Linked DNA regions of Homo sapiens. The protein of the gene in region 3 interacts with the protein of the main gene of each other region in a biochemical or structural test. Each region holds a gene or a part of one and is shown on either strand. Other genes may lie near its edges. The genes, in order: CIT, MYLK, MYL12A and CDC42BPA.

Region 1 (7,025 bases), on a different chromosome or scaffold from region 3:
CTCCCAAATGGCTGGGATTACAGGCGCCCGCTGCCACATTCAGCTAATTCTTGTATTTTTAGTAGAGACAAGGTTTCACCATGTTGGCCAGGCTGGTCTGGAACTCCTGACCTCAAGTGATCCGCCGCCTCAGCCTCCCAAAGCGCTGGGCTTACACGCATGAGCCACCGCGCCCAGCCACAGTGACTATTGTTTTAAGTCAGTAATATTTAGGGTGGTTGGTTGCACAGCAATGTTGTACAAGGTGGGGTTTCTCAAATTCAGCACTGTTGGCATTGTGGGCTACATAATTCTGTGTTATGGGGGCTGCTTTGTGCACTGTAAGGTGTTTGGTGGCATCTCTGGCCTCACCCATTAACTGACAGTAGGACCCTTCCCCCCAAACTCACACACCACCACCCCCAACTAGCTCTGACAACCGAAAACGTCAAATCACCCACTGGTTGAAAAACACTAATGTAAGAGTATGAAACTGGGACACTAACAGCCAACTGCCTCATCACATGGAAGTCAAGCAAAGTCAGAAACAGGGTGAAGGCAAGGCCAATATATGACTTCATAGGCCCTAGGTACTTTTGCCTTCCTCAGCCCCTTCCTCCATTAAAAACAAAAAAGAATTCAAAAATTATATTTTATGGGGCCAGGCATGGTGGCTCACACCTGTAATCCCAAAGCTTTGGGAGGCTGAGGCAGGAAGACTGCTTCAAGCCTGGAGTTTGAAACCAGCCTGGGTAACATAGTAAGACCCTATCTCTACAGAGAAAAAAGCAAAAATTAGCTGGGCGTGGTAGTGTGAGCCTGTAGTCCCAGCCACTGGGGTGGAAGGATTGCTTGAGCCTAGAAGGTTGAAACTGCAGTGAGCCATGATATACCACTGCAATCCAGCCTGGGTAATAGGGCAAGACTCTGTCTCCAAAAAAAACAAAAATTATATTTTATGACTACATTAGTATAAAGATGAATGTAATCCAGAATCATTATACATTATTATATTCATTTTTCCTATAATTTTAAAACAAATTAAAATTTAATTCAGTTAATTAAAAGTAATTAAATTCATTAAAATTAAATATCACAGATCCTAAGCACCGTGCCTACTCTGCCTAATAGAAAGTCAGCCCTGAGTGAGTATAAGGACAGGGCCACGGGATATTATTGAGGTCTCTGGAACTAGCTATGCCTAAAGCTAAAACTTAACTCATTCCTGGATTTCTCAGTTTCATGAGCCAATAAATTCACTCTTTTATTCACACAGGGTCTCACTCTGTCACCCAGACTGGAGTGCAATGGCACAATCACAGCTCATTGAGCCTCAACCTCCCGGGCTCCAGTGATCCTCCCACCTCAGCCTCCTCAGCAGCTGGGACCACGGGTGCAAGCCACCATACCCAGCTAATTTTTGTATTTTTTGTAGAGATGGGGTTTCACCATGTTGCCCAAGCTGGTCTTGAACTCCTGGGCTCAAGCGATTCACCCACCTCAGCTTCCCAAAGGGCTGAGATTATAGGTATGAGCCATTGCACCTGGCCTAAATTCAGTCTTTGAATTAAGTTTGTCGCTTGCAACCAAGAAGCCCAACTTACCTGGTCTCCCAGCTATAAGAGGTGCAGCCTGAATTTGAACCTGGATCTGTCTTATATAGAACCAGAGTTCTTACCGACTACTATCAACCAGTAACTCATTCTGCCTCAAGCATCTTTCTAGTTTTTCTCTCTCAGGACAGTTTTCAAGAAAAAGTTCCCCAAACTTACACTTCCGGACAAAGTTGCTCACGTGCTTAATCTTCATCAGAGCAGGCTGACTGCATTCTTCAAAGAGAACAAAGAGGGCATCTAATATCCCTTCTCGGGAAAGAGGAGACATCTGCTGTTGAGTCATAAAGGGTGGTTTCCCCTAAAAACAGCAAACAGCAGATGGAGACACTGTCAATAATGAAAAGCTTTGATCAATAACATCCACACAGAGTAAATTACAAGCCACCAACTCAACTAACTGCTCACGACATGCTAACAGCACAATTCTGTGGCTTCATTCTTTAAAGCAACGTCAACTGACAGTCATTATGGTATCACTTCCATGATTCCAAGACTGTGGGTTTCTTTCACCAGCACCTGGGAAGGAAAACTGCACAAGCGTGGCCATTAACAAGAAAAGCTCCCTCACTCCTGAGGGTCTGAGGCTAGTGAGAATATTTCCTCTGGATCCTCTGGCTCTGACATGCTTCCATGTTTCTACAATAGGAAACAATGGGTTTTTCACTTCTTTCATGTGTGCCCAGGGGTTTATTCATATAATTTCAGCTTTTTTAATTCATTTGAACAACCTAGAGTAATAAGAACTGAGTGACCATCGTAAAGCCAAATTTACTCATGATCTGGAGAAATAGTTACAAACTGGCAGACTGTCTCTAGCCCACAGATATGTTTTGTTTGGCCTGTAGTGTTTAAGATAATTTGAATTATCTGCCAATATTTCAAAATCAGGAGATTCCATACAAAAAAATAAAAATGGAGTCTCTGGCTTCTTTTGAAACACTGGCACATCCGGCAACACTGCCTCGCCTTCCTGCCTGATGACGCTGAGCTGGAGCTGAGTAATGCTGCCCCTCCCGGTAGCAGATGTGTTTGGGAGTTCACTGCAGGTCTGACTCCATCTTCCAACTGGCCCACTTGACTCATTTATACTCACTGCCTGGCCCCCAAAGACATGAGTCTGCAACCCTGGTATAGAGCAGTGATTCCCACGTGCCAAGCCATGGATAGTGGTGGTCTCTCTTCAAAGATGGCCTCCAACAGTTCCTCCAATTCTGTAGGCACATGCTACTCCTTACTTTAAGCGCTGGAGTCTATTTCTCCTGCCTTTGAATCTGTGCCATCTCTGAGACTCTCTTCAACCAAAAGAATGTGACACAAGTGACACTGTGCCAGTTCAGGGCAGTGCCTTTAAGAAGCTTGTCAAGCGGCCAGACACGGTGGCTCACATCTGTAATCCCAGCACTTTGGGAGGCCAAGACGGGTGGATCACTTGAGGTCAGGAGTTTGAGACCAGCCTGGCCAACATGGTGAAACCCTGTCTCTACCAAAATACAAAAATTAGCCAGGCGTGGTGGTAGGCACCCGTAATCCCAGCTACCTGGGAGGTTGAGGCATGAGAATTGCCTGCACCCGGGAGATGGAGGTTGCAGTGAGCCGAGATCACACCACCGCACTCCAGCCTAGGCAACACAGTGAGACTCCCTCTCAAAAAAAAAAAAAAAAAAAAAAAAGGCAGCTTAGCAGCTTCCACTTTTGGGAAGCCAGCCACCATGCACAGATGCTTGGGCTAGACCAGGGGTGTGCAATCTGTAGCCCTTGGACCAAATCCAGCCCACGGACTTTTTATAAGTTTTACTGGAACACAGCTACACCCATCATTTACATATTGTCTTTAGCTGCTTTTGTGCTACCATGGCCAAGTTGAGTGGTTGCAACAGAGACTACAGGACCCACAAAGCCTAAAATATTTATTACTTACAAAAAAAGTTACGAGTCAGCCAGGTGCAGTGGCTCACACCTGTAATTCCAACACTTTGGGAGGCCGAGGCAGGCGGATCGCGAGGTCAGAAGTTCGAGACCAGCCTGACCAACGTGGTGAAACCCCATCTCTACTAAAAATGCAAACATTAGCCGGGCGTGGAGGCACGTGCCTGTAATCCCAGCTACTCGGGAGGCTGGGGCAGGAGAATTGCTTGAACCCAGGAGGCGGAGGTTGCAGTGAGCAGAGATCGTGCCACTGCACTCCAGCCTGGGCGACAGGGCGACAGTCTGTCTTAAAAAAAAAAAAAAAGTTACGAGTCCTGGGCTATACTACTGAAAGACCTCATGGAGAAGAGAGGCCATGTGAGAAACACTAAGGTGCCCCAGCCAGCAGTCAGCACCCACATGTTCCAGTCCCAGACATAATCCCAGCTGAATGTAGCCCCACAAGTGACCCCAGCTGACATCACAGGATGAAGCAGAACTACCTAGCTGAGTCCAGCCAACCCACAGAATCCTAAGAAAAAATAAATCATTGTTGCTTTAAACTTTGTGAGTGCTTTGTTACACAGCACTTGATAACAGAAACAGACCGGCTGCATTTGAATCACAACAGCACTGGAGAATTTAAGAAAAACAAACAAACAAACAAACACATTCTCTGGTCCTATGCCCCCCTCCCCCACAACCAAATGAATTAGAATTTTCCAGACTGTAGCCTAGAATCTGTTTTATTAACAAGTTCCCCAGCAGGGAGAGGTGGCTCACACCTGGAATACTAGCACTTTGGGAGGCCAAGGTGGGAGGATCACTTGAGCCCAGGAGTTCAAGACCAGCCAGGGCAACACAGCGAGATCCCATCTCTACAAACAAACAAAAAAAAATTAGCCAGGTGTAGTGCCATGGTCCTGTAGTCCTAGCCACTTGTGAGACTGAGGTAGAAGGATCACTTGAGCCCAAGAAGTAAAGGCTGCAGTGAGCCAAGATTGTGCTGCCACACTCCAGCCTGGGCAACAGAATGAGACCCTGGTCCCCAAGAGAGTCAGACCTCAATCAGGTTTGGGAAGCACTGCATTCAAGGCCACCATATCTGTCACTTTAGTAATAGTTGCCAGTAACTCAGAAAAATAAAATGCTTTGTTTCTTCTATTCTTCAAGAGTTTAGATCAATTAAAGCAGGGGTTCCCAAATATAGTACTGGTTCTTAACAAAGTTTTCAACAGCCTGCAGTGAAATGAGAAAAAATGAACACCACATGATATCTTTTTTATAAAACTAAATGTATTCAAATTTAAAAATGGTCCTTTATTCTGAGATGATGTTCTTCCTGTCTTGTTGTTTCTTAAAATGCCCTTTATGAAATACAAGGGCCAGAAAATAATAGGTCTTTCTTTTTATTTTTTTTTTATATATCCTTACTTGGCAAAATAAAAAGTTGGAAAACCTGTGTCTACCCAGCAATTTGGGAAATTTTGCTGGCTCAGAAAGTCTGACAATCACTGACCTCGAACATGTCAGGAAATCCTGTTGAGTAGAAGTAAAAAAGACAAAATGACACTCAGTCTAAGGTACTCACCTGAATGGAAAACAAAATTGCTACTGTATCTCAACCTCATTCAAACAGCACTATATGGGAAAAGAACAAACAGCATCCTTACCTGATAACTCAAGGCAAATGATAGGTATATACTATACTTGCAATAATAGCTTTACTGGGCAGGGGGATCTCAGCATTAAAAAGAGATGAACTGAGGGTTTACCCATAAGTCTTCCTGTTATAATGACTAAATACAAGATATACTTAATAAATTCTGACGTGCACAGGTGCTGTGGCCCAATGGCTATGTGGTCAGCCTTTGGAGTCAGACCAACCAAAGATGGAGTCTGATCTTGGCCTCATCTGCAAAACCCAACGTGTATGATCTTGGGCAAGGCCTTACCTACCTCCATATCTGTCTATATCTGTTGCCTCCTATTTATGTATTTATTTAGAAACAGGGTCTCGTTCTGTTGCCCAGGCTGGAGTGCAGTGTTGCAATCTCAACTCACTACAACCTCTGCCTCCGGGGCCCCAGAGATGCCCCCACCTCAGCCTCCTGAGTAGCTGGGACTACAGGCACACACCGCCATGCCTGACTAATTATTTATATTTTTTGTAGAGATGGGGTTTCACCATTTTGCCCAGGCTAGTCTTGAACTCTTGGACTCAAGCAATCCACCTGCCTCAGCCTCCCAAAGTACTGGGATTACAGGTGTGAGCCACCACACCTGGCCTGTTGCCTCCTATTTAAAGTTTAAATTAAAAATAGTCCTTACCTCTGTCATGAGGCTGAAGTGAGATACTCAGAAACATGCCAGTTCTATGCCAGACACATTGGAAGCCATAACTATTACATAATCAGCACACTATAAGCCCTTAATAAGTTGGAAATTTTTTTCCTTTTCTTTTTTTTTTTTTTTTTAATTTACAGGGTCTTGCTCTGTCGCCTAGGCTGAAGTGCTGAAGTGCAGTGGCACAATCTTAGCTCACTGCAACCTCTGCCTCTAGGGCTCAAGTGATCCTCCTGCCTCAGCCTCCCGAGTAGCTGGGACTACAGGCACACACCATCACAGTCAGCTATTTTTTGTGTTTTTAGTAGAAACGGAGGGGCTCACCATGTTGCCCGGGCTGCTCTCGAACTCCTGACCTCAAGCAATCCACCCACCTCAGCCTCCCAAATTGCTAGGATTACAGGCGTGAGCCACCACGCCCAGCAAGTTGGAGATATTTTAAAGTAGCATGATAAAGGGGCTGAAACGTGGCAGCACTCCAGCCATCTAAGGTTAAAGACAGACTATTCATTTGTGAAAGATATGTCAAGACTTAAAATGCTGATGGGGATGGTCCCACAGAAAAACCTAAGCTTTCAATTTGTTTCCACTCTCATCTGTTTAAACACCCAATACCAATATTTTGGAAAAAAAAAAAAGTTATCAAGAATACTTCATCATTCATCATCTTACAGGTATCCTACATAACTACCTTCCCAAATATAATTACTATTAAGGAAACAAATTTAGTATTAATATTATAACTAATACTATTCTATGCTGAGTATTAACAATAATTACCATTTTTTATAAGGAGTTTACTAAGAGCCAGGCAAGGTGCTAAGTGCTTTAAATCGAATATCTCATCTAATCCTCACAACAACCCTGTGGATTAGGTACTACAACCTCTATGTTATTTTTTTTGTTTTCTTTTGTTTTGTTTTGTTTTGAGATGGAGTCTTACCCACTCTGTCGCCCAGGCTGGAGTGCAGTGCACCATCTCGGCTCACGACAACCTCCGCCTCCCGGGTTCAAATGATTCTCCTGCTTCAGCTTTTCAAGTAGCTGGGATTACAGGTACATGCGACCACCATGCCCAGCTAATTTTCTATATTTTTAGTAGAGACAGGGTTTCACCACGTTGTCCAGGCTGGTCTCGAACCCGTGACCTCAAGTAATCCGCCCGCCTCAGCCTCCGAA
Region 2 (6,972 bases), on a different chromosome or scaffold from region 3:
AAAAATACTAAGGTCAACTCTCATATAGCTACTACAACAAAGTGAATAAAGATCATAATAACCTCCAGAAAGATATTCTCAAAAAAATTAAAGCTATAATGTCCTAGAAAAGCTAATACACACTGAGTGACATGAAACATGAAAGAACAACATACATCAGAATTAGAGAAACTCAGAAATTAGAACAGAACTCACAGAAGAATTAAACGTTTTATTTTTTATTTTTTTTTGGAATTAAACATTTTAAAAAGCATTTGAGAAATAAAGATTGACCTATAAGGAACACAAGAACACATAAATATAACTAATAAAAACTTAAAAGAAAATAAGGTAAAAAGGAGGGAAATTTATAAACTTAAAAACAAATGAAGAAAGAAATTAAAAAGATTTAAGGGAAAGTGACAAATGTTGAAGATAGACAAAAAAGGTTCAATATGCAGATAATAGAAGTCTCCAGAGAAGCAGTCTAAAGCAATCCAAAACAGAACAAATATTTAAGACTTTAATTGAAGAAAATTTTCCTGAAATTAACAAAATATATGTATTTGAAACCACATTTTGAAAGAAATACACACTGTTTACTTTCAAACTAGAATGACCAACAAACATTCTAATAAAATTACTGGATTTGAAAGAAAAAGATAAAGTTATTTGGGCATCTAGGCAAAGTGAGAAGGTGCCGTCTACAAACCAGAAAGAGGGCTCTCAACAGATACTGAATCTGTTGGAGCCTTGATCTTGGACTTCCCAGCCCCCAGAACTATAAGAAATAATGTTTCTTGTTTATAAGCCACTTATTTTGTGTTTTTTTTTTTTGTTGTTGTTGTTATAGCAACCCAGCTGGACCAAGACACCAAGTAGTTTGAATCCAACAAAATTGACCTTCAAGTAAAATGGCATGAACAAACTGTAAGCAACATGCAAGAACTCAGAGCATATTCTTTCCATGAGCCCTTCCTAAGGAATCTAGTAGAGGACAAGCTTTCAGACAACCAAAATGACTAAAGATACATAAACATAAGGAACTAATGGTAAGCATTAAATATATATTTGAACTTTAATTAGGATTAGAATTGTAGAACTGTAAAATTAAGACTAAATTAGGGTTAAATAGGAAGATTATGGTATAGATGGCTATAGAAGCTGATAATTTAGATAGAGTATAACTATAAAAGATGGATAGCATATGCAAAAAAAACTGTTTTCAAGAATCAAAACTGATGATGGTAGTATTAATATTGTTATTCTGAGATTATTATTATATGTTTAATGCAAACTAAAGCAAATTAGTAAATTGGGATATTCTAATTTCATCCTCCCTTTTGTCCTTGAGAACCAGAATTCTCTACATGAAAGAAAAGAGGTCCTAATGTAATATATGTTAAGTAAAAACTACAGTCCTGAAATTAAATTGGAAATAATATAAACTGATGAAAATATTATGAAGAATAATATTTCTCTAGAATATAAAAAAATGAAGTATTCTTTAGTAGCTCTGTCTATTGAAAAGGCCTAGAAACAGTTACCAACCTAGTAACAATGAATACTCCTAGTGCTCATATTGTTATCTTAAAATTTCAACAAAAGAAACTAGAGCTTCTGGCCAGGCGGGGTGGCTCATGCCTGTAATCCCAGCACTTTGGGAGGCCGAGGTGGGCAGATCACGAGGTCAAGAGATTGAGACTATCCTGGCCAACATGATGAAACCCCGTCTCTACTAAAAATACAAAAATTAGCTGGGTGTGGTGGCACGTGCCTATAATCCCACCTATTCAGGAGGCTGAGGCAGGAGAATCCCTTGAACCAGGGATGTGGAGGTTGCAGTGAGCCGAGATCGTGCCACTGCACTCTAGCCTGGTGACAGAGTGAGACTCCATCTGAAAGAAAAGAAAGAAAGAAAGAAGGAAAGAAGGAAAGAAGGAAAGAAAGAAAGAAAAAAAGAAAGAAAAAGAGAGAGAGAAGGAAGGAAGGAAAGAAAAAACAAAAAAACTAGAGCTTCTTGGAGAAATGGCTGATTCCAGGTTTGAGGCAGCAAATGTACAGATGTGCCTGGAACATCTTGTCATATCAGATAGCAAGGAAGCTATCAAAGACTTCTAGGGTCTTTGAAGCTCTTTGCACACTAGTGAGAGAGAGAGAGAGAGAAAAAAAAAAAGACTACTAGAATCTTATCAAAAGGAGCCAGGAGCCATATTGAAGAAGCTCCTACTGGCCAAAGATGGGACAATTTGAGCTCTAATATCGTAGATGGAAACCTATCAAATATATTTAAATTCATGAATTTATAATGATATTAAAGAAATCTAAGAATGACAGAGAATCAATTCCTTAACTTGAAAACTGGGTAATTTTTTTAAAAAAAAGCAGGTATTCATCGTGCCTTTCCTATCTCAGGGTAATCAAATAGTAGATGAGAGGAAGCATCTCCTTATCCACTTATGAACTAATAAATGAAAACAAAATTATTAGAATACCATGATTTTGCAAACTTCAATTAATTAATGAATCTAGGAATTGAGCATCGACGGCTGTTAACCTCAAAAAAGAGCAAACACCAGACATCATGATCATGTACCTCTTGAAGAAAAGAACACACAACCATCTATAATCTTACAAAAGACATCAAACTTCAGTCTGAGGAAGACCCTGGATCAGCTGCCAACTTGCTGTCAATACAGAGGACAGAGAAACATGCTGAATTGCCTCATGAATGTGCAACCCCCAGACTCTGGAAAACCTCACAGATCAAGGGCTTAAGTTATTTAACAAATAATTGTAAGGAAAAGACTGAAAAGGCAAATCAAATTAAAAAAAAAAAGAGTGGGGGGAGGGGTAAGGTGCACCCTTGGAAGATACCAAGAAAAACAAAAGCAGCAGAAGTGACTACATGAAAGTCAGGTTAGTGGTTACTTTTGGGAGGAGGGAGAAAGGGGGTTGTCATTGAGGTAGGGCACATGGAGAGGCTCCTGGGGTGGCTGGCAGAGTTCTATTTCTTGATCCAGGTGGTGATTACAAGGATGTTCCCTTTATAATAATTCACTAGTCTATATATCTATATATTTGTTTTTTGTGGTTTTCTGTATTTATGTTTTATTTTACAATTAAAAAATTTTTAAAAACACTCCTTAACCTGCAGTAAACAGTTTTTTTAAAAAAAACAAAAGAAGGTCCAAGTGAAGAGATCAGAAGCTATAAAATATTTCATATTGGGTGCAAACTAAATATAAAGCAAGCCAAAACCAGAAACACCTCCTCCCCCTCCCCTCCCCCCCCTCCCCTTTCCCCTTTTTTAATTTAAAGAACTTTGTAGGTATCTTCCAAACCAATGAGAGATTCTTAACACACACAAAGGGAGGATGTCAGAGGAACCATGGGGCTGAGTTGCACCACTGGAGGATGTCTGAAAAAAACTACATAGACAACCTTCCAGCACTAAAACTTTAGCCCCATGGTTCCGCTGACATCTTCATTTTACAGATTAGAAAACTGAGGCCCAGAGGCAGCCAGTGTCTCATGCACGCTCACGAAGCTAGCATCAGACCCCGACCTAAGGCCTAGGTCTCCCAGTGTAGGACTAAGACACGCACCAAGACAGTACCAGCCCGCTGACCGCCGCCTGCGAGGAGTTAACTGGGGCGGTGCAGGATAAGTGCGAGGGGGGCCCGGGTCTGGCGCTAGGTTTGGCTGCGGATTCTCCGCTCCGGACTCCGAGGCAGAAGGCGGGTGGGCGTGGCGGGAAGGGCAGCAGGTCCACTCCCCGAGCGCTATGCAAATGTCATGCAAATCAGTGCATGGGGGCTGGAGCGGGTGGTTTGAGTCCTGACCCCGTAGCGCCGCGCTCTCACTCGCTCTCCTCAGCGCGCGTCCGCTCTCCGCTCTCCCACTTGCTCTCTCTCTCGCCGGTTCGCTCACCCCCGCCCCGCCCCGCCCCGCCCCGCCCTGCCCAGTCCCGGACGCGCCTCGCGGGCTCCCCGCGCCGCCCGGTCGGCAGCAGGGCGCTGAGCGAGCTCGGAGCCCGCGCTGTGCGCCTGCGGCCGGGGCGCCCCGCCGAGCGCCGGTGCCCCGGCTCCCGGGCCGCCTTCGCCGCGCGGGTGAGTGAGCCCGCCCCATGCTTTTGTCCAGGCGCGGGCCCTGGAAGTCAAGGCTCCGAGGGTGGGAGTTCTGGGTGGGGGCTGGGACCCCCACCGTCTGTGCCTCCCGACTCCCCTAATGGAGAGGGGCCCCGGGGTGCGGCGAGGAGTCAGGGGCGTAAGGAGACGACCCCAGTGACGCCAGGCTGCACGAGTTTTCTTTTGGGGAGATGAAGTGCTTGGGGACACTGATGCGATTGCCTTTCTAGGAATCATCCGAAGGGGGTGCCTTTGATTTGAGGGGCGGAGGAGAAGCGGACCCTTCTCCCAGCTCCCAGACCCTCGCTAGAGGACTCGGTGACGGCCTCTGGGAAGGGGGTGCCACGTGAAGGTCCTTCCAGCCCAAATGTGATTCCGGGAAGGTAGGGCGGGGAAGGCGGCCCGCGAGTGCCAGACCTGGCCATCCCAGGCGAAGCTGGGGCGCGGGCTTTGCAGACTTGTTCCTACTCCATACTCCTCATTTAAGCTCCTTACCTCGCTCTGCCTCCTTCGCGTTAACTGGGGTCCCATTGTTGAGGGACCTTGTTCGCCGATGATTGCAGTTGGAAAGTTTTGGATAAACTTCTCAGGAGATGTGAGTTGTCAATGGTTGAGGTAGACCCCTCCCTGGAACTTATGGAACTAAAACCCTTCAAGACCCAAAGGACTGAATTTCTAGGAGTGGCATTGCAGATGTGAAGATGGGCTGATGGGGAAATGGTTTCAAGGATATATATTTTTTTTAGATTGGGGTGTGTGTGTTGGGGTGCGGGGCACTTTCTATTTCGTAGCCAGAAGGAGAAGACCCAGCTCTACTAGAGTCTAGAGGGAGTAAAATTAGCTGTTGTGATTCAGGGAGCTGGGTGGGTGTAGGGAAACACCTGGGCAGTGGGCATGATGCCAGACCTCAGGCCGTTGGTTTTTACCATCCCTCCTCTCCCCAAGTGCAAAGACCAGAGTATATGCAATGACCCGCCCACCCCACAGCCTTTGAGAGCCTGCCCTGGAGCTGCATCCCCCTTCCAAGAGAGGCTGTGTTCTTCTCCACCTGAATGGAATACTTTTTGTCAAAATGCACTTATCAATAAATTATTTCCAGATGGTGGGCTTAGGAGGACCATTTGGGGAACCCCGCCCACACTTCAAAGAATCAGGAATCAACAATGCAAGTCTCTGGGAGAAGTGTAGGTGCATCTGGTGACTTTACTAGGTTCCTACAAGGCATTTAGGGTTCTAATAGAACTGTTTTCTTTTCTCTTAAATTCTTGACCTCCTTCTCTCTTCCGTGATTCTCTTAGTCTCTTCCCCGCCTGCACACTGTGGGACTGTGGAGGATGATGCTGCTGGCACCACAGTGCTCTAGGGCAGCATGGAATTTTCCTTCCTGCCCAGAGTGAGGTTACCCCTTTTTCTCCCACTCTCAGTGGGCCAGGAGCCTTGGGTCTGGGAGGAACCTGAGCAGTTGGTCCTGGGTCCGGAGTGGTTGGACTCTGGATGCTGGATTGGGTAGCGGGTACTCTGGGGACATGCACAAGAGCTTTTTTTGCCAAGATGTGCAGGTCTGTCTCATTGTTCACTGATGATACAAAGGATGCTGGACCTCATTTGCAGCTAAGCATGAGCTTGGAGAACCACCCCACAGTGGGGAAGCATTTATGCTGGTTTATCTCCCATGTTCAGTTTCTTTTGTGTAATAACTGGCTAGCTGAGGAGGAGGGTAGCTGCAGCATTGTAGATGTTTCCTTGTCTTATTTTTATTTTTATTTTTTATTTTGAGACAGGGTCTGGCTCTGTTGCCCAGGCTGGAGTACAGTGGCGTGATCTCAGCTCACTGCAACCTTGACCTACCAGGCTCAAGGAATCCTCCACCTCAGCCTCCTGAGTAGCAGGGACTACAGGTGTGTGCCACCACACCTGGCTAGTTTTTTGGATTTTTTGTAGAGATGGGGTCCTACCATGTTGTCCATACTAGTCTAATGGGCTCAAGTGATCGCCCACCTCTGCCTCCCAAAGTGCTGGGTTACAGGCATGAGCCACTGCACCCAGCCAGAGTAGTTGCTGTTTGTGTGAGGTTTGCTCACCCCTTCATCAGGGGCTGCTTCCCCAGGGGCCAGATCTTAGAAAACATATGCAGAGCAGACTAGGCCTTGGAACATTCCTAGGCTAACTGGTAAGGCCAGGTGGCCCCACCTGCTGCCTGAAAATGGTAGACAGACAGCTACAGTCACTGCAGAGGAGGGGCTCCTGGCTGGCAGGTGGCGGGGGTAATCTGCTGAGAAGGCTTGTCAGAGAAGGAGGTGACCCAGATGGTGCAGAGGGGAGAGGCCTTTGAGTTCCAAGGGTGGGGAAAGGTTCTGGGTCTCTGGCTAGGGAGATCTTTGCTGGTCTCAGAGGCATAGATTGTGAATGCGCTGGGGTCACCATATACTCAGTGTCTTTGAGAATGACCCCTTGCTTTTATCCTCAAAATATAAGATGAGCCTAGAGTTTGAAACACAACTAGTTGGCTTGTCTGTCTTTTAGGAAGTTCATAAGGTGGGGTGGGGGTTTCAGAATGCAGCCTTGCTTGGGGACATGGGTACAGTGTCCCATGAGTATGGGGTGTCTTATTTAGTATCTTTCTGAGAACAATACTTGGGAGTCTGGAAATATAAGCCTACTTGGAAGCCCAGCTGCACCTCTCACAGCTCAAACCAACCCACACAGGCTGGGAGATTGTTCATTCTTAAAAGCTTCCTGTCCTGTCTTTTCAGCAAATGTAGTAAAATTTAGAAACAACACTTAAAAAGTATCCTTTCCCAACAAAAGACAATGTCCTCGCTCAACTTGGCCAGCAGAGGGTGCATGCAGAGGACATGAGGCA
Region 3 (7,410 bases):
AGTTCAGAAAAGATGTTTCTGAGTAATTAAGGGATTGGGGAGGAGGAAGACCTTGAAAAACCCCGTGTGGGATCATTTAGAAGCTACAAAGCATTGTTAGAATGAAGAGATTCGGCTGTTAGTCTCAATTCTAACAAATTAAGGTAGTTAATTCTATCAAAAACTGGCAGTGTAATGTTGAGGAAGTTACTACCTAGGCCTTTACTTTTTCAAGGAGGCTGGATTCTGATCTATGAGTTATTTTCCACCAGAAACCTTTCAGCGATAGGGAGTTTGGCTGCACAGTCACTGTTCCAAAATACAGAAACTGTGGGGTTTTTTCCCTACCAAACTAAAAGTGTGGGGAGAATAAATAATGGTGGAGGGAGTCAAATCAGGAACAGTGCTATGATCTCAAGGAGCAGATCATTTCTGATATTGTCAGGGTCCTCTTTGCTGATTCTAGTTTGTTGTTCATTTTACTTTCCTTCAAACAATTTAGACTGTCACTCTTCATGTAATAAGCCTTCAGCAAATGCACAACTCTCATCGAAGTTTAGAAAACTAGGGTATACCCCTTAATCTAAAAAAGTTGAAATTGCTTTATTATTATACTTTAAGTTTTAGGGTACATGTGCACAACGTGCAGGTTACATATGTATACATGTGCCATGTTGGTGTGCTGCACCCATTAACTCGTCATTTAACATTAGGTATATCTCCTAATGCTATCCCTCCCCCCTCCCCCCTGAAATTGCTTTTTACAAAAAGCAAGCTAGGGTAAAATAAATTGAAAAGATTTCATGTCAATGTAATTATTCTTTAGGATGCAAAGATCGCCAGGTAAGGACCTGAGGTTTCCAAATTACGAAGCTCCTCAATCATAAAGTCGAGTCTTTATTTACTTATTTATTTTTATTTATTTATTTTTGAGACGGAGTCTTGCTCTGTCGCCCAGGGTGGAGTGCAGTGGCGCGATCTCAACCTCCACCTCCAGGGTTCAAGCAATTCTCTGCCTCAGCCTCTGGAGTAGCTGGGATTACAGGCACCCACCACCATGCCCAGCTAATTTTTGTATTTTTAGTAGAGACGGGGTTTCACCACCTTGTGCAGGCTGGTCTTGAACTCCTGACTTCGTGATCCACCTGCCTCGGCCTCCCAAAGTGCTGGAATTACAGGCGTGAGCCACCGCACCCAGCTCGAGTCTTTATTTTTGAGGGATTAAGTGAAAGATCCTTGGTGTCAAGGAGTGTCTGTTGTACGAAACTGGAAAGTAGAGAGACTTACAGAACAGGCTTCTACAAAATATGAGGATTTCAGATGCATGAGAAAGTGGATGAAGGGCAGTTAGGAGACTGAGTTTACAGATCTAAAGGAGCATAACCTTTTTTTTAAGTCAGGCGAGGTGAGCGCTGGTGGCAATGAATCTGGTTTTTATTTTGTGTTTTAGCTCAGAATCATTGTGGGCTGTAACGAGAGATACACAACATGATTAAGGAAAATGTTAGACTAGATTAATAGGTGGGAGAAATAGAAGAGATTCTCAAAGTGGCTTTCCCCACACACCAAAGGACACAAGAAGTTTTCAGAATCTCTAGAAACTATGTTCATTTATAAAATGGGATTAATCCATACCAATATATACATTAGAGTTCTGTGGTTAGAATCCTAGAGTCCAGCATTTATTTACAAAGTGGCAATAAATGTAAAATAACCTAGAAACTTCTTCTACAAAACGAACACTCAAATTGATAATATTCTGAGAAATATCACACATTCTGCAAGAAAAAACCACCATCTTACAAAACACTGCGTACTGTGATAGCACCTAGTATTTGGTGGGCTTTCTAAACCCTGACCAAATATACCGCCTCATTTAATCAATGCACTTAAAAAAAAAAAGCCTAAGTATAACTTATTTTCTGGTGCTAACCACAATTTTTAAAAAGTGTATTTCAAGTTGGTGCTTCCGTTCCAAGTAAACCAAGTTTCATTTCTTATGCAAACTTCCGGTTGAAGGTAGGATTCGTTCTCTTGGACTGCCACACCCAAAAGTTCTCACCACTGGACAAAGACAATTAGCTGTGAGGGCTGACTTGCCAGTAAAGCCTCGCTTTTGAAAATAGAGTGCTTTTCTGATTACCGTTTATTAGAGCCCTTCCAGAACATGAAACAAATACCAATAATTTTAAGAAATATTCGCTTTATTCGCCTTTAAATATGAAACTTTTTGCACTTAAGTTAAAATCTCTGCTAAATCCATAGGTCTCTCAAGAACTGACAGATACATTCATATACCTACTAAACTACTTTAAAAAGAAGACACTTCCATGGCGAATTGAATTAGCCCAAACTTTCCCCCCAAATGGGACAAGGTATTACATTTTGGAGTTTTTCTTCGAGTCACAAACTAAACTCCAGATCTCTCTGTCCAAAATTTCATCGCTTAAAGAAAAAAAGTTCTAATTACAGGAGCGGATACTGAGCTGAAGAACTTCCCAATTTGAGTTGGTTATTCCTACTAAACGCAGCCACACAGCTGCAACAACAGCTGCAGCAGGGGGACAACGGGCTACGTTTTTGCGCAAACCCTCTTGAATCGGGCAAGTTGACGTTAGAAACTAAAATAGTCCCGGAGTCAGCTCTGCAGGGGTCGGGTTTCGCGGGCCCGGCAGTCGCCCAAGCTCAAGGCGCCAGTGAGCGAAGCCACATTTCCAGAGTTCCAAGTTTGGGCACAGGAGCGAAGTTCGGGTCTGGGCCACTCCAAGCCATGGCCTCGGATCCCAGAACCGGGGACCTGGCTGGCACACCTGCCCAGGTGCGCTACCGGCGCCAGGAGCCCCGCCGCCCTCCAGCTGCCCCCGCGGAGACGGGTCCCCGGGATGGGTCTCACGCGCCCGAACGCGAGCGCCACTCACCCGGCACAGCTACGAGAATCCGAGCACCTCTCCGAGCCCCTCGCTGCCGCTATCACACCACCCTGCTACCCAGAGAGCCGCTAAAAACCACCGCTTCCGGCCTCTGCTTAGCAAGCCGGAAGGAAGCCCGGTCACCTTTCTTGGCCCGCAGAGTGGGTCTGACTTCACGGAGGGGCGACAGAGAGGGAAGTCGCCAGTGTGGTCAGCGGGCGTGGTATTGACCAAGTGCATGAGAAGGAAGTGTAAAGTGGGCGACCTAGAATATAGAGCAATATATAATGGTCCTCTGGGTCCTGTTACTGAGTTTCCTTCTTTTTTGTACCTGTTGTTGCAGTGTTAAGTCTTCCTCCCCCCTATCCTTTCCGCAGATGGTTGCGTCCGTCCTGTGGCTTTGCCTGGCCGCACATTCCAGGGCACGGCGAAGGGCGGGGCCCGTCGGCCCAAGTCCTTGTAGGGAAATCGAGGAGAGGGCTGCGGGCCCACGTGACTGACCCTCGCCCCGCCCCGAAGCCGGGCTCCAGCTTGTGGGCGGTAGTGCGCCTGCGCTTGACGCCCCGCGCGGGGTCTGGGTCTCCGCCTGAGGGCCCCGGAGCAGTGCGCGTATCCCGGGAGCGGATCTTGATGCTAGCTCTGTGTGCAGTGTAATTTTATTAAGAGTCCCGCCCCCTCCATACGGGAGGAAACGTGTGTCCCTGGGGCCCTCAGCCAAGCCTCCACTATCTTTTTGGCCCAGACGGATTTCCCAGGTCACAAGTGGCTGGAGACTTCCTCTTGAAAAACATTTGCCGTCGTTTTTCCCTGGCAGAGCCCCTTTGACCCTGGCTAACAAGGACAGCCTGACTTGGATCCCACTATGCAGGAAGGAAGGCGACTCTTCCCCGCACCTCTTGCTACGATTAGGACTTGCGACTTGGTGAAAACAGGAATCAAAACTTGGGCCTATTTCTCCTGAGGTCTGCTTGCCTAGAACAATTCGTAACGATGAATCTTATTAAAAAGAGAAAGTCCTCCCCGACTTTATCTTTTTCCGCCCAGAATCCGATAAGGAAGACTTGTTCTGGCCCCCTCAGCTCTCTGACCTCACCTACCAGAGGAGAGAGTGGGATCCTCTAACACTCGAGCCGTCATCCCAGCACTAGGGGACAGTGACCAGTGTGGCTCCCGTGGCCAGAACCCTTCTGAAGTTTGGGTTGCCCTGTGGTCTTCGCCTTCAAAGCAGGCCGCCACTTGAATCCTTCTGGAACGGACAGTGTTGCTGTAAACGCCGCGGAATAGTATCTTCTAAGTATTCGTAGCTTCTTTCTTGAGGGATCTCGGGAACGTTCCGTGTATTAACCACTAACGTATTCCAAAGTTAACTTCGTGGTAAAGTCGCTGGGGAAAAAAATAACTGCTCCAGTTCCACAGGTGATTGAAACAAAAGTGATCTGTTTCCCAAACTTCCTTGATGGTAAAGAATGACTTGGGGTACTAATTAAAAATAAAAATAATTGCGTCATTTCCAACCTACTAAATCGGAGTCTTTAAGGGCAGGTCCTGGGAAGCCATCCATGTAATGGGGGTCCTAAGTGGGCTCTTATCGGCGAGGGCGGGGACTCAGCGAGAGGGCTGGCAGCGACGGGACAAACCCCAGACGGCTGCGCGGATGCGTTTGTTCCTGGAGCTTGCGAGCACTTGCAATGCATGGACACCTCCACAGGGTGGTGGCCTGCCACCACGAGAGCACCAGCTCCGCCAGCGTCCTCTCCAGAGGACACTTTAGAGCAGAAAGAAACGGACAGTTCAGTCTTCCCCTCAGCTTGAAGGCAGCATTCTTTTGCTTCTCTTTGAGTCAGGTAATTGTTTTGTCTTCCTTCCACTCAGTCAGCAGGTATTAAACAGCAACCGCATTGCCAAGCACTGTGGTGGGGGCTGTGGCTTATGCTTTCCGGAGCAGAACATAGTTGTTGCTACCTTGGGGATGGGGGCGGGAGGAATAGAAAAAATGCGGAGTTAGCGGAGTATCAGGGAACAAGGGTGGAACAGATATAATAATTGCAGTACAGTTAGTTAGGGCCTATTGAAGGAGCACAAACGAAGCGTAAACTTGTCTGGGAACTAGTGGAAGGTGTCCCCCAGGGGATGTTAAAGAGCTAATTCTAGAATTAATTCAGTGGGGAAAGAAAAGGAGAGGGAGATGCCAGGCAGAGGGAGCAGCATGCCTGATTGTCTGGAGGTGATCAGAGGGCCTGGCTGATTGAAGATGAACAGGAATTGTGTAGTCTGTGTTCATTCATTCATTTATTCATTCCACAACTATGGATTTAAAAACGGTTAGTCAACCAATGTGGAAAAATAGCATCTCGATAAAATGTTCTTCAAATGTCCACCTAGTATTTTGATACTCAGTTTTCATGACTGGACCCACCATCAAAGGCCTCTGACTCTGATATTTCTATCCTTTGGACCCTATGGGAGATCTTTGCCTCCATGTGATAATCTCCTTCTCACGTTTTTACTAAAAGTTTGGAGACTTGAATTCTGCTCCAAATAGAGTGAAACAGGGTCTTGCTCTATTGCCCAGGCTGGAGTGCTGTGTTCTATCACAGCTCACTGCAGCCTCCATCTCCCAGGCTCAAGCCATCCTCCCTCAATCTTTTGACCAATACTCATAGTAAGAAATTTATTTCACTAAGAAATACTTGACTACCTATAATGTTTTTCAAGGATTTCTATTCTGTTCTTTTCAATTCTGTTATTAGTCTGCTTTAGCTGCCATACAAAATACTACACACTGGGCGGCTTAAACAACAGAAATTTATTTCTTATACTTCTGGAGGCCGGGAAGTCCAAGATCAAAGTGCTGGCCAATTCGATTGAAGGCCCTCATCCTGACTTGCAGATAGTCAGTCGCCTTCTCCCTGTGTTCTCATGTGGCAGAGAGATCTCACTCTCTTCCTCTTTTTTTTTTTTCCTTTTTAAATTTTTTTTTTTGTATTTTTATTTTTTTACTTTTATTTACTTATTTTTTTGAGATGGAGTCTCACTCTGTCGCCCAGGCTGGAGTGCAGTGGCACGATCTCAGCTCACTGCAACCTCTGCCTCCTAGGTTCAGGTGATTCTTGTGCCTCAGCCTCCCAAGTAGCTGGGATTACAGGCATGTGCCACCACGCCTGGCTAATTTTTTTTTTTTTTTTGTATTTTAGTAGAGACGGTTTCACCATGTTGGCCAGGCTGGTTGCCAACTCCTGACCTCAGGTGATCCACCCGCCTCAGCCTCCCAAAGTGCTTGGATTACAGGCATGAGACGCCACACCTGGCCTCTTTTTTTGTACTTTTAGTAGAGACAGAGTTTCACCATGTTGGCCAGGCTGGTCTCAAACTCCTGACATCAAGTGATCTGCCCGTCTGTGCCTCCCAAATGGCTGGGATCTCTTCCTCTTATGAGCCTTCAGTGTTAATGGAATTAGGGCCGACCGTTATGACTTCATTTAACCTTAATTATATTTTAATTATATCTCCAGATACAGTCACACTGGGGGTTAGGCCTTCAACATATGAATTTGGCAGGGAGGGGACACACAATTCAGTCCATAGCAAATTCTATGTCATTTAATTTTTAGAATACCTCTCAAGGCCCACTAAATGTGAGCTTATGATCCACTATTGCAGTGGTTCTCAATAGTGGAGGAGTGGTGGTTGGGTTTTGCCCTGAAGGAACATTTGGCGATGTCTGGAGAGACAGTTTTGCTTTTCACAAACGGGACAGATACTGCATCTAGTGGGGAGAAGCCAGGGACGCTGCGAAACATCCTACTATGCACAGGACGGCCCTCGACAACAGAACGTTATTCAGCCCAAAAAGTCAGTAGTGCTTAGGTTGAGAAAACCCAGCACTAATCATTTGGAAACTCAATATTTATAGCAATCAATTATTTCGGGAGTACTATAATTTCTACAAGGTCACTATCCATTGCTCCTGCCTCAGAGTAAGGTGGTGGTGTTTTTTTTCCCCAAGTGAGATCTAAAGGGAGAAAAAAATGGAATGGACAGTTATTATTATCTGTGCCTATTATGTGCTAGGTATTCTATATAAACATTTCTAATATATAATTCTTACAACAACCCTGTGAGATAGACATTATTACCTCCGTTTCATTGATTGGGACACAAGCTCAAATACTTGAATGATCTGCACAGGTTTCCCAAAAGGTAATGAAAGAACCTGGGTTATAAATCCTGTCTCTGATTGTCCGGGGGTAGAATAGAAAGGAAAACAGTAAATATGTGGATATTTATCCACATATCTCTAACTCCTAATACAATGCCTAATATCCACAGGTGCCGGTAAATACATGGTAACTGGTCAATTGTTCAAGTGCACATAGCTAGTAAGTGGCCCAGCCCGAAGCCCATATTTTATTTTACTGTACTGTGCTTTCTCCTTTGGTCCAAAGTAGGAAAATTTCGTTACCCAAACAACAGCAAGGAAGCATAGCAGAATGGATCCTTGGTATTTACAACCTAAGTCAAT
Region 4 (7,041 bases), on a different chromosome or scaffold from region 3:
CTGGGTTACCTGACTTGCCCTGCATTTCCTCAGCTCTTCCACCATCCATGGAACCATGTGTCAGAATTAAGGTTTCTCTGGTTTTGGTCGGGCACAGTGGCTCACGCCTGTAATCCCAGCATTTGAGGCGGGAGGATCATTTGAGGTCAGGAGTTCAAGACCAGCCTGGCCAACATAGCCCTGTCACTACTAAAAATACAAGAAAATTAGCCAGATGTGGGCCAGGCGCGGTGGCTCACACCTGTAATCCCAGCACTTTGGGAGGCTGAGGCGGGCAGATCACAAGGTCAGGAGATCGAGACCATCCTGGCTAACACAGTGAAACCGCGTCTCTACTAAAAATACAAAAACTTAGCCAGGTGTGGTAGGGGGTGCCTGCAGTCCCAGCTACTTGGGAGGCTGCAGCAGGAGAATGGTGTGAACCCGGGAAGCAGAGCTTGCAGTGAGCTGAGATTGTGCCACTGCATTCCAGCCTGGGCAACAGAGCAAGACTTGTCTCAAAAAAAAAAAAAAAAAGAAAAGAAAATTAGCTGGATGTGATGGCATGTGCCTGTAGTCCCAGCTATTTGGGAGGCTGAGGCAGGAGAATCGCTTGAATCAGGGAGATGGAGGTTACAGTGAGCATGTGATCACGCCACTGCACTCCAGCCTGGGAGACAGAGTGAGACTTTGTCTCAAAAAAAAAGCTTTCTCTGGTTTAAATAAATAGGTGATTTCTGCTTTTTTGGTTGAACTCTGATATAATCATGTGCGTAGTTCTTTCTTTTGCCCTCATATCAACTTCTAATGCCCAAATATGTGAATTAACAACACATCCCACTTCTTCCTTGTTACAATAGGAAGGAAAAGTTGAGTTTATAGAACCTGCAGATTTTTTAGACCTCACTTGCTTTGTGATTAAAGCCATGGGCACTGGCATGAGACAGGCCTGGTGTTGACTTGTAGCTCCTGTGTCAATTACTAGTTGTGTGATCTTTCACAAGTTAAGATCTCTAAGCCTCAGCTTCTTCCATCGTCTGTGATATAGAGGTAATTTCCCTACTTCATATGGTTATGATGATTGAATAAAACATGAGCTCAAACTACCCAGGACAGTGTTTACAGGTTGTTAAGTGTTCTGTAAAGGAAGCAATTATTAATCAGAAAGTTTCTTTTTTATATACAAGCCCTTGCAGTTGATCTCACTCATGTCAGGAGCCTGACATGAAGACAGGACAGGCATTTGCTGGCATTTTATCCTGGGAGGGTACTAAGCCAAGTCATTCATTTGCAGGGTCAGGATGTGGCTAGGCTAAAAGGAGATGTGGTAAAACATCCTCAGTGTTGCTATACATTAAGCCCTACTGTGGCACGCACCTTGTTTTTGGCTCCGTTCTCCAGCAATGACCCTATAGTTATTCTGAAGTTAGATATACCAAGGTGAGAGTGAGGCTGACTGTTATAAATATTAATTGGTGGATTAATTCTCCTGCTTTTAGCCCTGAATTGGAGGATTAGTTGAAGAGAGCTTGTATTGGGGACTAGGCTTAATGATTTCTGTCCTGCCTTCTTCTTTCCACCTTCCTACCTTCTTGTCTTCTCCTGTCCTCTTTCTTTTCTGAATGGTCAGATTAATTCCCAGCATCTTCATAAAACATTCTCTGATTATTTCAAACAAATTGGGTGTTTGCAGTGGTATACATCTAATCTCCAGGCCCCCAAGCAGAATTTCACAAAGAAGACCTCCTCCAGACTATTTTTCCCCAAAGAATACCCTGCGAGGCAGCCTGTGGCACTCTTGTTTTGCAGGAACACTTCAAGCACTGTACAGCTGCTGGGCTGTGCCTTTCTTTGGCTTAAGACCGGTTTCATTAACAAGCATGTTCACACTTCAACCGGAACATTTAAAATAACACCCGCACAATGTGTTTAGTGTCTAGTTAATTATTAAGTCTCTGAGCTTGAATTATTCAAGCAAAATTGATTGGGTTCAAGCTCCTTCCTTCTCTTTGTGTGTGTGTTTTTTAAAATAAAAATAAATTCTGCTCTCTACTTTCTAAATAATGTGGAAAGGGTTATTTAGCAACCATCAATACCCTGGACTGTGGGTGGTACCCAAGCGCTAATAGAATAGGTAAAGAACTGACAGCTTGACTCTTTTGTTAAAAAAAAAAAAAGTATCTACATCTCATATACTTCCATTGTCAATTAGCATTTAGTGAGACCTAACATGTTTTAGGTTCTCCTTTAAACTTCTTTCTAGTTATTTGTAAGTTGGAAAAGCAGGTATCTTGGAGCCATTTCTTTAGTTAACCGTACTTGAAAAAGCAGAAGAAATTGCTTCCTTCTTTGCTACCGCATCTTATGGTCAAATGAAACTGTTAAAATTGGCTTCACCATTAAAATCCATGTTGTTGAAGAATGTTTGTTGAACTGAAAAAATGTCCATAATATATTGCTAATTGCAAGCAAGAGGCTATAAAACTCTTTTATTATGTATCATTTTTGTTAAAGTGCATAGGAAAAAGACTTGAATAATAAACACCAAAATATTGCTTATTATCTGTGTTAGGATTAAACTTTTCTACTACTTTTAGAATTAGACAACACACACCCATATAAAGATGTCATGGCTGGAAATGACTGACCTTTTGTTTGAATCTAAGTATCATTCATGTCAAGACCGCATTGAAAATAATGCTGTTCTTAAGCCAGGCAAGTGTAGACGTTGTAGATTTCATAAAAGATTCACACTATTTCATGAATCACAACTTGAATCGACTTCTGTTAGCCTTCATTTTACGTCTAGGCCCTCATTTCTAATTCTTCCTCAGCTTCCATATTATCAAGATGTAAGATGCAATTGTGGACATGAACATAGAAACACAACCGCCTCACAGGTGTGGGGAAGGAATATAAAATAATTGTATTTTAGAGAACGACCATAAAGGAGATGGCAATTTTGAGAGAAAGTAACAGAACTGCAATGACCTAGTTTTGTGGTGTTAATTTAAATGTGGCATCTTCCATGAGAATTTTATAAAGGGAGCTCTCCTAAAACCGAGATTCACAAAAACCTGGAAGGGCCCTACAGGGATCAGGTGCCCTAGCTATTCAGCGATTTGCCTTTGCTTCCCTAATTCCTGCATTGTGCCACTGGGTTACAAGTGTGTGTGCGCATGCACACAGGGGTGTAGGTTTGATGACAGTGGTGAACTGCCTTGACTGCCTTCACAGGCTGAATCCCCCGCAGGCAGTAACCATGGCTAGGGAAAAACAGGCAGCCGCGAGGACAGTTCCGGAGGAGACAACACCAGGCTCCCGTAGGGAAACTTTTGGGAATGGAGATGGGGGATTCCATCCTTTGCGTGCAGACCCAAGACTTCGATGGTAGCTCGGACAAGTCTGTCATTGTTTTTGTCCTGGGAAATGACACACGAAGTGCTGTAATTAGACACCTAAGAAACGATTACTCTGGAGTGTGCGCGAACCGAATCTGGGGGGCCGGTGGGGAGCAGGTAAGGGGCTGAAAGGCACCGTCTCCTCCAGCTCTGTCGGAAGCCTAAAGCCCTCTGCTTCTGGGCGCCCTTAACAAACGCGCCAGACAGGTGATGTCTCCGAGGACGAGCAGGAGCCCCCCTTCGCGATCTGCACCAGAAGCCTCGGGGAGCCGGGGCCACGGCGCGGCGGTGGCGCAGTTCCCAGCCTGCGCCCAGTCCCGCCGCAGCTCCCGGCGCGGCCCGGTCATCCCGCCTCCATATGCTCCGCCACCGCCGCCCGGGCCTCCCTCAGCCCTCCCGCAGCTCCGCATTCCACGCTGCGGCAGCCGCAGCCTCGCCGCCTAGGCAGTCCACACCCCTCCCCTCGGGCTGGCGCAGCCACTCGGGCCCCGAGCCCGCGCCCCCTTGGGGGCCTCCGCTGGGCGCGCCGGCCGGACCCCGCCCGGCTTGGCCGCCGGCTGGGGCTGAGGCTCGGGCAGGGCGGGGGCGGGGAGTGGAGGGCGTGTGCGCGCGCGTGTGCCGGGGCCGGGGGGCCAGGCCGCCATATTGGATCCAGACTCGTCCGCAAGCCTCCGCCTCTGTGCGGCGGGACTGGAGGAGCCTCGCTGAGCCCAGGGCGCGAGCGCGAGAGGAGAGGGAAGGCGGGGGAGGGCTGGAAGGGAGAGGAAGGGAGTGGTTGGGAGCCGGGCTGCCGCAGCCTCTAGTCTCCTCAGCCGCGGAAGCGACCCCTCCTCCTGCGCCGGGCCGCCTCCCTCCTCGCTGTGGAAAGATGCCCTTAGCCCAGGGGTGTGAAGAAGGGGGAGAAGTAGCTGCCAGAGCCGCCCGCGCCGCCGCCGCAGCTGCTGCTGCTTGTGTCCTTTGAATTCAGAGAAGCACCCCCCCGCCTGGGGCGTCGGGAGCCTCCGGCGCGGCGGCCCGGTGCGGGTGTCGGGGAGACCGGGCTCTCTGCCCGGCGCGGCGCGGCGCGGCTCGGCCCACGAGCGACCACCGACATGGAGTGGGCTCGGGCGGCCAAGTAGCCGCTTCTCCGGAGCCCGGTGCCAGTGCCGCCCGCAGCCCGCCTTCCACCCCCGGCCGCGCCGCCGGTCAGGCCCTAGGGTGAAGCCGGGAGGAAAATGAAGAGTTTTCACCGGAATCCGTTGAAAATAGGACTGACTGCAAAGCCTTAAAGAAAGAAGGACCTCGGGAGGAGAAACGAAAAGCCGCCTCCGGGCAAGACTTGGCGTGCTCCGAGCCGAGGGGCTGCTTCAGGGACCTCGCCCCCTCCCTTTCCCGCTGGAGAAATTGCCGCTGATGCATTATCCAAGTGGTGGTTGGGAGGATTTGCAGCAACATTTTTGGTTTTCCCTCCCCCTTCTATGCATTCTGTTTTTTTCCTCCCTTTTCTGTTTTTCTTCTTCCCGGGAAGTGAATTGCTGATGCAAATCGGACTTTATTCATTAATGATGCAACCGGATTCGTTTCAGGATTACGTTGCACGAGTTGAATTTTGAATGAAGGAGAAGAGTTTTTTTTTTTTTTTTTAAAGAAGTGTTGACTCTCTAGTTCGTTGTACTTTTAATTATTATTTTATTTAAATATACGACTTAATTGTATTCTTTTAAAAATGCATTAAGTATATATTTTATGGTAATTTACCCTCAAAATATATGTATATGGGTGAAATTGAAGACGCTTCAGTTAAGTGAGGTTACTGGTGTGTTGGATGTTTAATTCAGCACCAGCATTGCATGACAGTTGTTTGAATAACAAGTGGTTTATTTTTAAAACCATACCTTTTAAAATTTAGGTTCAGATAATAGTAAAAGTCATCATAATAATTTAAAGGAAAACCAGCAGAAATCGAAGCAAACATGTCTGGAGAAGTGCGTTTGAGGCAGTTGGAGCAGTTTATTTTGGACGGGCCCGCTCAGACCAATGGGCAGTGCTTCAGTGTGGAGACATTACTGGATATACTCATCTGCCTTTATGATGAATGCAATAATTCTCCATTGAGAAGAGAGAAGAACATTCTCGAATACCTAGAATGGGGTAAGTTTGTAATTTTTAAAGAAACTGTTAATCTTTAGCTGGTCATTATGATTTAATTGGTATAGAGAGTTATGAGTAAACTCTACTCCGTTCAAAGAAAAAATACAATAAAAAAACAGACACTAGTTATTCAAGATTTTCCGCTAGTTTTTGGTAAATATTTTCCCAGGAGTAGAATTGTGCTGCTCAATTGTTGCCTTGATTTAAGGCCTAGCTAATGTGGAACTTGGCTATGAAGAACTTATGTTTTTAGGTCAACAGTAAGAGATTTTAAATCAATTCTGTGATGGGCAAAAGTGGATTATTGGTTACAGTTGCCTAATACATGGCACTATAATAGTCCTTCATTTGAAAGGTATTTATTGGTGGAAACATTCAGACTATGGAAATTATTCTCAAAATAGGAGGAGATATTAAAATATCTGTGTTTGCCTTAGGTCAACAGAAAGCTGAAGGTGGTGATCAGTGGGTTTTATTTCATCTCTACATAGTACAAGGAAAGGAAACTGCTAAACATGGACTTTCCAAAAATTATGTTTGTAAGATTAAATGACATAGTTTAAAAATCTTGTGATAGTAGTTAGAGAATGTTTGGGGGCAGCTTCCACTTGAGAGTTAGATTTTACTCGAAAGTTAATTTAAATCTAAACTGGTTAGGTTTTTGGCTTCATTCTTCTAAATATAGATGTGATTTAGAAGACCTACTGTAGTGGAATAGATCAATGATGTGAGCAAACGCTCCATGACCTTCAAGCTTGAAGGCTTGGCTCAAGTTCTTCAGCGTCTGCTGTTACATACAGGGCACATTCTAAGGTCCAGAAGTTCACTGTTGCAATAAGCACGCATCGTCACCCAGATCTGTCTGTAGTAGTGGTACGTTGGCTTTTGAAGGATTTTGGCCAAATATGATTTTGTACCTTTGGAATACTAATCATTTTAGTTTGTTCTTATGCTAAGTTCTTATGCTAAAATATCTGTTCCCAAGTAAAACTTTATTTTCCTGAAGTAAAAGTCAAGTGCTGATTGTGTCTTTTTTTTTTTTTTTTTTTGGATTTGAAATTTATTCAAAGTTAGTTTCTCAGGTAAACCACTGATACAAGAATGTCTACACGTAATAACTTTAATTATTCAATTTGCCAGTATAAGAAGGTTTCTAGCAATGTGATGTCATAAGGTTTAAAAAAATATGTAAATGTGAATAGAATAACTTTTCAAAACAGACTGCCAGACTCATCCTGGGAATGTAAGAAATCTAAACCATCTTTCAAGTAACTTCTCACTTAAGAGTGAGACAATTTTGGCTTTGGTACTGGTTTTGTGAGTATACGTCTTTTATTTGTTGAATAAAGTATTTTGTAAAGCATATGTAGTTTTACATCCCATGTTTCACAAATTGAGAAATTCTGTAGTGTTAATTTTTTTTTTTAAGACTTAAAGGGTTTTGGTACTTTTAGAGTTGGAACTTGAGTTCTTAAGTTATGGTTCCTTAATGACACTCTAGTCTGTGATTTTTGTCATTTAGTATTCTTTC

What was found.
Region 1: of the proteins of MYL12A (region 3) and CIT, one has a biochemical effect on the other in vitro, tested with the Homo sapiens proteins (one study listed by IntAct).
Region 2: of the proteins of MYL12A (region 3) and MYLK, one has a biochemical effect on the other in vitro, tested with the Homo sapiens proteins (one study listed by IntAct).
Region 4: of the proteins of MYL12A (region 3) and CDC42BPA, one has a biochemical effect on the other in vitro, tested with the Homo sapiens proteins (one study listed by IntAct).

The regions. Positions count from the first base shown.
Region 1 is NC_000012.12:119,867,309-119,874,333, forward strand, and holds part of CIT (citron Rho-interacting kinase), read right to left. Parts: intron 1,894-7,025; coding exon 1,752-1,893; intron 1-1,751. UniProt on the Homo sapiens protein: Plays a role in cytokinesis. Required for KIF14 localization to the central spindle and midbody. Putative RHO/RAC effector that binds to the GTP-bound forms of RHO and RAC1. It probably binds p21 with a tighter specificity in vivo.
Region 2 is NC_000003.12:123,881,325-123,888,296, reverse strand, and holds the start of MYLK (myosin light chain kinase, smooth muscle), read left to right. Parts: upstream 1-3,964; 5' UTR 3,965-4,091; intron 4,092-6,972. UniProt on the Homo sapiens protein: Calcium/calmodulin-dependent myosin light chain kinase implicated in smooth muscle contraction via phosphorylation of myosin light chains (MLC). Also regulates actin-myosin interaction through a non-kinase activity.
Region 3 is NC_000018.10:3,243,397-3,250,806, reverse strand, and holds the start of MYL12A (myosin regulatory light chain 12A), read right to left. Parts: upstream 3,007-7,410; 5' UTR 2,898-3,006; intron 1,447-2,897; exon of another isoform or gene 1,364-1,446; intron 1,246-1,363; exon of another isoform or gene 1-1,245. UniProt on the Homo sapiens protein: Myosin regulatory subunit that plays an important role in regulation of both smooth muscle and nonmuscle cell contractile activity via its phosphorylation. Implicated in cytokinesis, receptor capping, and cell locomotion.
Region 4 is NC_000001.11:227,315,474-227,322,514, reverse strand, and holds the start of CDC42BPA (serine/threonine-protein kinase MRCK alpha), read left to right. Parts: upstream 1-4,022; 5' UTR 4,023-5,332; coding exon 5,333-5,510; intron 5,511-7,041. UniProt on the Homo sapiens protein: Serine/threonine-protein kinase which is an important downstream effector of CDC42 and plays a role in the regulation of cytoskeleton reorganization and cell migration. Regulates actin cytoskeletal reorganization via phosphorylation of PPP1R12C and MYL9/MLC2.